3 linked regions of the Homo sapiens genome follow. The protein of the gene in region 3 purifies or fractionates together with the protein of the main gene of each other region. This does not show direct contact. Each region holds a gene or a part of one and is shown on either strand. Other genes may lie near its edges. The genes, in order: RNF123, DNAJB8 and FCSK.

Evidence for each region.
Region 1: the proteins of FCSK (region 3) and RNF123 purify together in Homo sapiens (affinity purification with mass spectrometry; one large-scale study listed by BioGRID and IntAct). This does not show direct contact.
Region 2: the proteins of FCSK (region 3) and DNAJB8 purify together in Homo sapiens (co-immunoprecipitation; one large-scale study listed by IntAct). This does not show direct contact.

The regions. Positions count from the first base shown.
Region 1 is NC_000003.12:49,706,447-49,710,095, reverse strand, and holds part of RNF123 (E3 ubiquitin-protein ligase RNF123), read right to left. Parts: intron 3,306-3,649; coding exon 3,198-3,305; intron 1-3,197. UniProt on the Homo sapiens protein: Catalytic subunit of the KPC complex that acts as E3 ubiquitin-protein ligase. Promotes the ubiquitination and proteasome-mediated degradation of CDKN1B which is the cyclin-dependent kinase inhibitor at the G0-G1 transition of the cell cycle.
Region 2 is NC_000003.12:128,464,085-128,468,191, reverse strand, and holds the start of DNAJB8 (dnaJ homolog subfamily B member 8), read left to right. Parts: upstream 1-1,301; 5' UTR 1,302-1,578; intron 1,579-2,755; 5' UTR 2,756-2,916; intron 2,917-4,078; exon of another isoform or gene 4,079-4,081; 5' UTR 4,082-4,107. UniProt on the Homo sapiens protein: Efficient suppressor of aggregation and toxicity of disease-associated polyglutamine proteins.
Region 3 is NC_000016.10:70,457,562-70,461,210, reverse strand, and holds part of FCSK (L-fucose kinase), read right to left. Parts: intron 1-3,649.

The sequences.
Region 1 (3,649 bases), on a different chromosome or scaffold from region 3:
GGGAGGCCGAGGCAGGAGGATTCCTTGAACCCAGGAGTTTGACAACTGGGCAACATAGTGAGACCCTGCGTCTACCAAGAAAAAAAAAGGGCAGAAAATAAGAAGTGTCGGTAAGGATATGTATGGAGAAATTGGAACCCTCATGCACTACTGGTGAGAATGTAACAGGCACAGCCACTGTAGAAATGATATGGTAGTTTCCAAAAAATTAAACAACAGAATTGGCCGGGCGCGGTGGCTCATGCCTGCAATCCCAGCACTTTGGGAAGCCGAGGCAGGCGGATCACCTGAGGTCAGCAGTTCAAGACCAGCCTGACCAACACGGTGAAACCCCATCTGTACAAAAAATACAAAAATTGCAGGGCGCGATGGCTCACGCCTGTAACCCCAGCACTTTGGGAGGCCGAGGCGGGCGAATCACCTGAGGTCGGGAGTTCAAGACCAGCCTGATCAATATGAAGAAACCCCATCTCTACTAAAAAAAAATACAAAATTAGGCCAGGCGCGGTGGCTCACGCCTGTAATCCCAGCACTTTGGGAGGCCGAGGCGGGTGGATCACGAGGTCAGGAGATCGAGACCATCCTGGCTAACACGGTGAAACCCTGTCTCTACTAAAAATACAAAAAATTAGCCGGGCGTGGTGGCAGGCGCCTGTAGTCCCAGCTACTCGGGAGGCTGAGGCAGGAGAATGGTGTGAACCCGGGAGGCGGAGCTTGCAGTGAGCTGAGATAGCGCCATTGCACTCCGGCCTGGGTGAAAGAGTGAGACTCTGTCTCAAAAAAAAAAAAATACAAAATTAGCTGGGCGTGGTGGCACATGCCTGTAATCCCAGCTACTCAGGAGGCTGAGGCAGGAGAATTGCTTGAACCTGGGAGGCAGAGGCTGCCGTGAGCCGAGATCGCGCCATTGCACTCCAGCCTGGGCAAGAAGAGCAAAACTCCACCTCAAAAAAAGAAAAAAAAAATCACAAAAATTAGCCGAGCATGGTGGTGCGCACCTGTAGTCCCAGCTACTCGGGAGGCTGAGGCAGGAGAACACTTGAACCCAGGATGTGAGCCGAGATCGCACCATTGCACTCCAGCCTGGGTGACAGAGTGAGACTCCATCTCAAAAAAAATAAAAAATTAAAATTAAAAATAAAATAAAAAACAGAATTACCATATGATACAGTAATTCCACTTCTGGGTATATAACCAAAAGAATTGAAATTAGGGTCTCAAAGAGATCTTTGCAAACCCATGTTCATTACAGCATTATTCACAGTAGCCCAAAGTAGAAGCAACCCGAGTGTCCATCAGCAAAGGACTGGATATATGAAATGTGGTGTCCGTACAACAGAATATTATTCAGCCTGGAAAATGAAGAAATTCTGACACATGCTATAACACGAATGAACCTTGAGGACATTATGCTAAAGCCATACACAAAAGAACAAATAGTGTATGATTCTTCCTAGATGAGGTGCTTAGTATAGTCAAATTCAGAGACAGAAAGTAGGATGGTGGTTGCCAGGGGCAACCTGAGCTAGCCTCAGAACAGGGCCATGGTGGTCCCCTCATGACATGGAAGTAAGGCCCAGCTGGGGGTCTGTGAGCCGCTGGCCAGAGCACTCAGGGACCTGATGCCAGAACCACTGCTCCCCCAGCTGCCAGACCCAGGGATCTGCTGACAGGTGGGGATGGGTGGGAGCTGTCAGGGAAGCTGGGGAAGGGAGGACAGGAGGTTTTGTTCAACAGGCACGGAGTATCAGTTTTGCAAGATGAAATGAGTGTGGAGATTGGCTGCACGACAATGTGAATAGACTTAACACTTAAAAATGGCTATGATGGGTGACCGGGCACAGTGGCGCACGCCTGTAACCCCAGCACTTTGGGAGGCCGAGGTGGCAGGATCACATGAGGCCAGGAGTTTGAGACCAGCCACGCCAACAAAGTGAAACCCTGTCTCTACCAAAAAATACAAAAAGTAGCTGGGCGCGGTAGCACATCTATAATCCAGGAGAACTGCTTGAACCCGGGAGACAGAGGTTGCAGTGAGCCAAGATCATGCCATTGCAGTCCAGCCTGGGCAACAGAGTGAGACTCTGTCTCAAAAAAAACACAAAACAAAACAAAACAAAAAAAACACAGCTAGGATGGTACATTTTATGTCACACATATTTTAGCATAACTAAAAAAAGGCAGAGAGATGAGAGGGCAAGGGTCTTGAGAAGACAGTGTGGGAGAGGGCAGCCAAACTTCTGAGGGAGGTGGGCAGGCAGGAAATCTCAGGGCAGAAGGGAGAGGAAGTTCCCGTCATGGGGCAGTAAGCACGGTCATCCAGGGTAGCAGGAGAGTCACGAATGGGAAAAAGGTGGAGGTGGTTTGGGTTTTGCAAAAGAGCCATGAGAAGAAACAGCAAGCAGAGATGATAGAAATGGGGATACCAAAGGCCTCGATCACCCAGTCATGCAGGGGTATGCCCAAGAAGACAGCAGATACCCTGACCTGGGCACCTGAAGAGACCCTCAGGGCACTCACTGGTTAGGGAAGAGATGCCAAGAGGGGCAGGGAGAGGAAACAAGTCCAGAGAGTCTGAGGCCTGGGGGTGAAACTTCAGTCACAGCAGGAGTGCCCCATCCATCTGTCTGTCCATCCATGTATCTGACCAGGCTGAGTGCCTTCAGAAGGCAGAGGCTCATCTTTCTGACTTATTAATGTGTGTGTGTCCCTAGTTCCAGGACAGCACCTGGCACACACCAGGTTTTGAGTGCATGTTATTGAATGAATGAGCAAGTGAATGAGTGAGTGGGGAACAAGCCAGTGGCCTCGGGTGGTAATGAGTCAGACAGAGGCAGGCACAGATGGTGGAGTGTGCCTCCGGGAAAGACTGCAGAGCCCCTGATGCACTGGGAGAGAAGGACGGGGGCCAAGAAACTGGGAGGGGGTGGGAGCAGGGGAGGCAGACAGACAGAGTTTGTTCCTCGAAGGACAGGTCTATGAGGCGAACTGGAGGTCCAGAAACTGCGCTTCCTCAGTCCACAGAGCATGAGGGGTACAGGGGACATGGCATGGGGTGATGGAGTCTGAAGTGTGGGAAGGGACATGTGTGTGCCAGAGGCCTGAGAGGGTGGGGGCATCAAGGGCCCTGGCACAATCTTGCTAGACCCGTGGCCAGACAGTGAGGTCGGGAAGGGGCAGCTGCAATACCAGCACACCTGGGAGTAGACAGTGGCATGGACCCAGGCAAGACGGCGGCTCAGGTGGTCCAGCTTTTCTGAGAAAACCTTCTGGCTCTTGGTCAACTCTGCAAGGATGTCCTTCCTCTGCCACCCAAGGGGAAAGGAGGACAATCAAGACATGGCCCCATACCCAGGTCCACCCTGATCCTGCAGGCAGCCTAGGAAGGGCCCTCTAGTGCCTGGAGCAGGCAAGGGATTGGGCTCCATTTTTCAAAACCTTCTTCTGCCACTGACCCTCTGGTGACCCTGAGCCAGCCTCAGAACAAGGCCATGGTGGTCCCCTCATGACATGGAAGTGAGGCCCAGCTGGGGGTCTGTGAGCCGCTGGCCAGAGCACCCAGGGACCTGATGCCAGAACCGCTGCTCCCCCAGCTGCCAGACCCAGGGATCTGCTGACAGGTCGGGGTGGGTGGGGGCTGTCAGGGAAG
Region 2 (4,107 bases), on a different chromosome or scaffold from region 3:
CCCACTGGTGAATGAGGACAGAGAGGCTTGAAGAGGGGAGGTGGCCTGACAGAATTGACGGTGGAGCGTGTGGGGCCTAAGTGTGCGCTCATGCCTGTGTGTCCCTGTCCCTCCAGCAGGCCCTATGGAGGCCTCAGAGCCCCTGATGCTCCCCACTGGCTCCCCAAAAACTGGCGTGGAAGGAGACTAGCCTGAACCCTTTGCAGAAGGGAAACTCCTCTGCACACTGCCCGGCTCCACGGTCCACAGCTCCCTTCATGGGGAGCTCCCCACAGGGGCCTCCATCTCAGGATGCCCTTGATGGTGAGGTGTGGGACCTGCTCCCAGGTGACACACCTGTTCCCGTAAGTCCTACCGAGTGGTCTGTTCTGTGTGCCCTAAGACAGCCCTGAATGGGCGGCAGTGAGGGGGTCTCCAGCCCTGTCTCCATCCTGGCTGACTCCCACAGACCCATCCCAGGAACAAGGGTTGGAGCAGGGCAGTGGCTGGAAGAAATTTCCCCTGGGAGTACAACGCAGACCAGAGCCAGGGTCTCCAACAAGGCAGGGAGGGCCAGGACGGGGAGGCGGCCACAGGATTCTTGGATGCCTCATCATACTAGGTCCTTTGTCTCTTAACATTGTTTTCACCACCCCTCCTCCACTGTCCTGATTCCATCGTCATGGAAACTTCAGGCTTCACCTTTACAATGTCAGGCCACCAACACCCTCAGCAGTGTCACCATCACCATCAACACCCCAGCGTCCCATCCCCATCTCCTCTACCACTGCCACCAGCCCCACTATCACTATCATCTCTGTCACCGTCACCACGGTGCTCTCCACCCGTGTCAGCATTGTGTCACCACCACATCACTGTCACCACACTTCCTCCACCTCCATCTCCACCCACCATCCCATCTGTGACATCACCTTATCAGCTCTGCCACCAGTATCAACCACTCACACCGCCTTTGCCATCACCACCGTCATTGCCCCCTCTACTACCACCACCATCACCACCACCGGGTCTGCCTCAGCCAGACCCACCACTGCCTCTAATTAGACTGCCACCATCATCACTGCCACCACCACTGCCCCTCCAATGCCTTCCTGATGTCACCATCTGCTTTCTCTCTGCTATCCTCACACCCAACTCCATCACAACCACCACCTTCATCTGAGCCGCCATCACCCTCACAGTACACAGCCCTCAAATGTGTACCAAGGAGGAGGACATTTACTACACGCTGCACCCTGAACAGTCTGGGACCAGCGGTCAGGGAACAAGGAATCGAGATGCTCACCTGCAGCTCCCAGGTGAGCGGCTCTCTAGAGCTTGCCTGGGAGCTGCTGAGGAGCTCACGGTATTCCAGGAAGCTCCCCATCCATGCCTCAGCCTGTGGCTCAGAAGCAGGGTCTTCGCAGAAGATTGCCCCGAGCTGTTGCAAAGCTCACCATTGTCACCTGCCTGCAACGGCCTCTCTTTTCCACTCTCCAAATCCCTTGTATTGGCAGGCTCTAGTCTGGAATTATACCGGTGATGGGATTCTGGAAAATCCCTCAGATTTCTCCAGGATGCAAGGAGACCATGGAAGAGGTTGGTGTAATGCCAAGTTAGCAACAGAAAATACAGAGCCCCACACCTCAGTGCCATCACCATCGCCATCGGCACTCACACCAGCATGTCCACCACTGTGTCCTTCTCACCCCTCGGCACCCCCCTCTACCATTGCCTCTTCCACAACCACCCTCACCACCATCCTCCATTAATAGCACAATTCCTGCCTCCTATCCCATCACCACCACGGGTGTCCCCGGCACCAGCAGCACCAACACTGCTCCCAGCAGAGCCATCGTTACCAGCCCCGCTGTCAGTCCCATCTTGAGCATCTGGCATATGTTGGAGAACTGCTCACTCCCTCTTCCCCATGGGAATCTCAGGCCTCTCTTCCTATTGCCCTGAGATTTGCAGAACCTTCCTGAAGGAAACATTCTTTGCCCCATGGATACTGGCCTTGACCATGGGATGCAGCAAGACTGCCACACATCATGGCCCAACAGAAGCTTTCAGAGGCAGCCCAAGTTCCTGCTGTCTCTGAGTGGCACTGTCATGAGAGAGGGGTGTGCAGGTCAGAGCTGATTCTCCAGCCTGGGACCCACAGTGAGAAGCTATGGGAGGTGGGGCCCTGGCAGCTGCCTGTAGGCACCAGTGAGTGAAGTGGGGGGAACTAGATGTTTGTCGTGAGCCACTGAGAGGTGGAAGCTGTCACTGTGGTATAGCCGAACAAGATACAACCTCTGCTACCTCCACCACCTTCACCTTCATCATCACCATTACTGTCACCACTGCCAACCACACCAATGGCTCACTAGGAGCCATTCCCATCACCTCCTCATCATACCTGCACCATCACTGCCAACCACAACAAAGGCTCGCTGTTACCATCTCCTCTGGCATGACCATCACCACCACCACTACCATCATCAATTACTCTCAAGCACAAGCCTTGCTGCTGTCACCACCAGCATCACCATCATCATGATCAACTCCACCATCACCCATAATTACTCTCCCCCTCACACCCACCATGACCATTACCTCCACATCAACACTGCTCCCATGGTCACCTCTACTATATAATGACACCTTATCCATCTCCATGGACACCCACCGTGCCTCTCCCCACCAGCAACACAGTCAACAGCAGTGCCTCTCCCACTGCCACCGCCATCATGGAGAACTGTGCAGGGCAAGCATCTTTCTCCCGCCCCAGGAACAAGCCTGCAAGGGACAGCAGGTGCTAACTGCTAACCGAGACATAGTGACAAAAATCCAGCCACAGAGATAAAGAATCAGGTTCATCTGTAGCTACATCCAGTGGAGAAGTTCTGCTCTTCAACTCCTCTGCTAAGCCACATGTGTCAGCAGGTGTAGGTGGGTGGATGCCCAGCATGGGGGTGCGAGTCGTGCTTTTGATAAGCTGCATGGAGGGACAGCGATGGTCACTGGAGGCTGGGTTTACAAAGTGTCTCTACAGTCTGTCTCCATTCCTCCTGGCATTTGGGATTGGTTAGAACACACACTGTCCCCTGCTAGGAGCCTGAAACCTAGCACCCATGAGCACTGAAAGAAAAGAGAGAGAGGGAGGATAATAGAAAGGGATGAAGACTAGAAAAAGGAAGAGGAGGAAGAAGGGAGGAATGAAGGAAGGAAGGAGGAAGGAAAGAAGCCAGGAGTGAAGAAGGGAGGGAAGGGAGAAGGGGGAAGGGGAGGGAGGAAGGAAAGAAAGAAGGAAGGAAGGAGAAAGGGAGGAAGGAAGGAAGGAAGGAAGGAGGAAATGAAGGAAGGAGGGGGAAGGGAGGGAGGGAGGAGGGAAGGAAGGCAGGGAACGGAAGGGAAGGGAAGGGAAAGAAGGAGGGAAGGAGGGAGGGAGGAAGGGAGGAAGGAAAGAAGGCAGGCAGGAAGGCTATCTTTAGTTAAGACTTGGTGACCCAAACATCTAGGCTCTTTATTGGTGTGGTTAGTAGGTGGTTTAGCATGGTTTTGATCTTAATTGGAGTGGGGTGAGGTGAAGGTAGGAACAGATATTAATCAGTATTGTGAATTGCTGTTTCTATATATGATCCAACACCAGAACAAGAATTAAAGGAATATAAATGCCTAAGAATATTTGGTTACCTCACTCACCTGATTCGTTTTCTAGGGCTGTTACAAATTATTACAAACTGGGTAGCTCAATACAAAAGAAATCTCTTCCCCCAGTTCTGGAGGCCAGAGGTCTGAAATCGAGGTGTTAGTGGGGCCGCACTCCCTCTGGAGGCTGCAGGGAGAACCCTCCTGGCCCCCAGCTTCCAGCTGCGTCAGTGTCCATCTCCTATACGGACATGTGTCACTGGATTTAGGGCCCACTCAGATAATCCAGGATGATCTCATCTCGACATCCTTAATTTAATTACATCCGAAAAGATCCTTTTTCCAAATAAGCTCACATTCAGAGGTTCCAAGGATTAGGATAGGAACATATCTTTTTGGGGGCCACCATTCAACCCACTACAGTCAGTAATCAATATTTATCATCAATTCCTATTTTTCTTACCAGAATTGAGTGGAACACTTCTTTGGATT
Region 3 (3,649 bases):
CACCCCAGCCAAAGTGACAGGAAACCTGAAGCTCAGCCACAGGCTATTCCAGTGCCAGGCTCTGCTGCCACCAGAAGAGAAGAGGCTGACAGGACACCACCACTCAGCAACACCCACGCCTTCAGGAAAAGCCTCTGTCAGAAATTGCTCCATTCCCTACTCAGCCCAGCAGGGAAATCCAGAGGGGAAATTCCAGCTAGAGATCCCAGCCAGGCACTTGAGGGTGAAGGCTCCTCCCAGGATGCCCACCAAGCCCTCCCTCCAACTTTGCCACCAATTTACTGTATGGCCGTAGGCACGTCTAACCCTCAGGTCAGCTGCAGCAGGGAGTGTAACTAACAGACGCCCCCAGCTGCTACGATCTGAATCTCCCACCTTGTTTACATGGAGGCCACGCTTTGAACGAACCTTCTCACAACCAGTGACTGAGCACAGCTGGGACACTGAAACAGACCTATTCCTGTGAAATTCCAGACTCCTCTGGCAGGCAGCTTAGAACTGCACTGCCACCTGGGCGCAGTGGCTCACATCTGTAATCCCAGCACTTTGGGAGGCCAAGGCGGGCAGATCACGAGGTCAGGAGTTTGAGACCAGCCTGGCCAATATGGTGAAACCCCGTCTCTAATAAAAATACAAAAATTAGCCAGATGTGGTGGCACGTGCCTGTAGTCCCAGCTACTCAGGAGGCTGAGTCAGAATAATCACTTGAACCCAGGAGGCAAAGGTTGCAGTGAGCCAAGATCACACCACTGCACTCCAGCCTGGGCGACAGAGCGAGATTCTGTCTCAAAAAAAAAGAAGTCCAGGCACGGTGGCTCACGCCTGTAATCCCAGCACTTTGGGAGGCCGAGGAGGGTGGATCACAAGGTCAGGAGATCGAGACCATCCTGGCTAATGCAGTGAAACCCCGTCTCTACTAAAAATACAAAAAATTAGCTGGGCGTGGTGGCGGGTGCCTGTAGTCCCAGCTACTCGGGAGGCTGAGGCAAGAGAATGGCATGAACCCGGGAGGCGGAGCTTGCAGTGAGCAGAGATCACGCCACTGCACTCCACTCCAGCCTGGGCGACAGAGCGAGACACCGTCTCAAAAAAAAAAAAAAAAAAAAGAGGCTAGACGTGGTTGGCGGCTCACGCCTATAATCCGAGCACTTTGGGAGACAGGGGCAGGACTGCCTGAGGTCAGGAGTTTGAGACCAGCCTGGCCAACATGGTGAAACCCCATCTCTACTAAAAATACAAAAATTAGCCAGATGTGGTGGTGGGCACCTGTAATTCCAGCTACTTGGGAGGCTGAGACAGGAGAATCACTTCAACCTGGGAGACAGAGATTGCAGTGAGCCGAGACCATACCATTGCACTCCAGCCTGGGCAAGAAGAGCAAAAATCTATCTCGAAAAAAAAAAAAGATGAAGAAACTGCTGGGTGTGGTGGCTCATGTCTATAATTCCAGCATTTTGGGAGGCCATGTCAGGAGGATCGCTTGAGCCCAAGAGTTAGAAACCAGCCTGGGCAACATACAGAGACCTGGACTCTACAAAAAAAAAAAAAAAAAAAGACGGAGAAATGAGGCACAGAGAGATGAAGTAACTTGCCAAAGCTAGCAAGTGGCAGAGTGAAGTTTGAAACTAAACTTTTTTTCCAGAGTATCTATTTTATTACCTTTTTTTCTTTCTGAGATGGAGTCTTACTGTATCCCCCAGGCTGGAGTGCAGTGGTACAATCTCAGCTCACTGTAATCTCCACCTCCTGGGTTCAAGCAATTCTCCCTGCCTCAGCCTCCCGAGTAGCTAGGATTACAGGCATGTGCCACCACGCCTGACTAATTTTTGTATTTTTAGTAAAGACAGGGTTTCACCATGTTGGCCAGGCTGGTCTCAAACTTTTGACCTCAGGTGATCCACCTGCCTCGGCTTCCCAAAATGCTGGGAATGAGCCACCATGCCCGGCCTCTTTTTTTATTGTCTTTTTTACTTTTTTTTTTTTTTTTAAAGACAGGGTCTCAATCTGTCACCCAGACTGGAGTGTAGTGGTGCAATCATAACTCACTGCAGCCTCGACCTCCCAGGCCCAAGCAATCCTGCTACCTCAGCCTCCTGTATAGCTGGGACCATAGGCACATGCCACCATGCCTAGCTAAGGTTTTCACTGTTTGTTTTCTTTTTAAGAGATTGGGTCTTGCCACATTGCCCAAGCTGGTCTCAAACTCCTGGACTCAAGCAATCCTCCTGCCTCAGCCTTTTTTTTTATTAATTTATTTTTAAATTTAATTAATTAATTTTTAAATTCATGCTCCCCACTACAGGGTCCACTTGCTTAACCACTACAATAAACCTACTTTGTAGAGCTGAAGTACAAAAGGAGGAAATATATGTAAAGCACTCAGTATGTATTATCTATTATAATTATGACAAAGCCTAAACAAATACAAGGGAGGGATGATTTTAGTAATAATAGCCACTAGGATGCCAGGCATGGTGGCTTATGCCTGTAATCCCAGCACTTTGGAAGGCCAAGGCAGGAAGATTACCTGAGGTCAGGAGTTCGAGACCAGCCTCGCCAACATGGTAAACCCTGTCTCTACTAAAAATACAAAAATTAGCCAGGCATGGTGGCAGGCACCTGTAATCCCAGTTACTCGGGAGGCTGAACCTGGGAGGTGGAGGTTGCAGTGAGCCAAGATCACGCCACTGCACTCCAGCCTGGGCGACAGAGTGAGATTCCGTCTCAAAAAAAATAAAATTAAAATTAATAGGCCGGGCATGGTGGCTCACGCCTATAATCTCAGCACTTTGGGAGGCCGAGGCGGGTGGATCACCTGAGGTCAGGAGTTTGAGACCAGCCTGGCCAGCATGGTGAAACCCCATCTCTACCAAAAATTCAAAAATTAGCCAGGCATGGTGGCGGGTGCCTGTAATCCCAGCTACTCAGGAGGCTGAGGCAGGAGAATCGCTTGAACCTGGGAAGCGGTGGTTGCAGTGAGCAGAGATTGTTCCACTGCACTCCAGCCTGGGTGACAGAGTGAGACTTTGTCTCAAAAAAAAAAAAAAGAAAGAAAGAAAGAAAAAAAATTAATAATAGCCACTAGGACTGAGCACTCTGGACCACAGTTAAGGTGCTGTGATTTTTTTTTTTTATCTTGACAACACCCTTAGACCCTGCAAGATAAGTATTATTATCTCCTATTATCTCCACTTCACAGAGGCCAGGAGACGCTATAGTCAAAGTTGCAACACACCTGGGTCTTTTGGATCCTTATTCAGGTGATAGTGATAATGATATCTGGTCCCAAGCAAAGGCACTGAAAGACAGCAAGAGGCCAGGTGCAGTGGTTCACACCTGTAATTCCAGCACTTTGGGAGGCCAAGACAGGCGGATGGCTTGAGCCCAGGAGTTTGAGACCAGCCTGAGCAACATGGCAAACCCCATCTCTACCAAAAAAAAAAAAACAAAAAACCACACACATACAAAAATTAGCCAGGCACAGTGAATGTGCCTATAGTCACAGCTACTCAGGAGGCTGAGGCGGAAGCATTGTTTCAGCCCTGGGGGCAGAGGTTGCAGTAAACTGGCACCAATACATTCCACCCTGGGTAACAAAGCCAGACCCTGTCTGAGGAAAAAAGAAAGAAAGAAAGAAAGAAAGAAACCC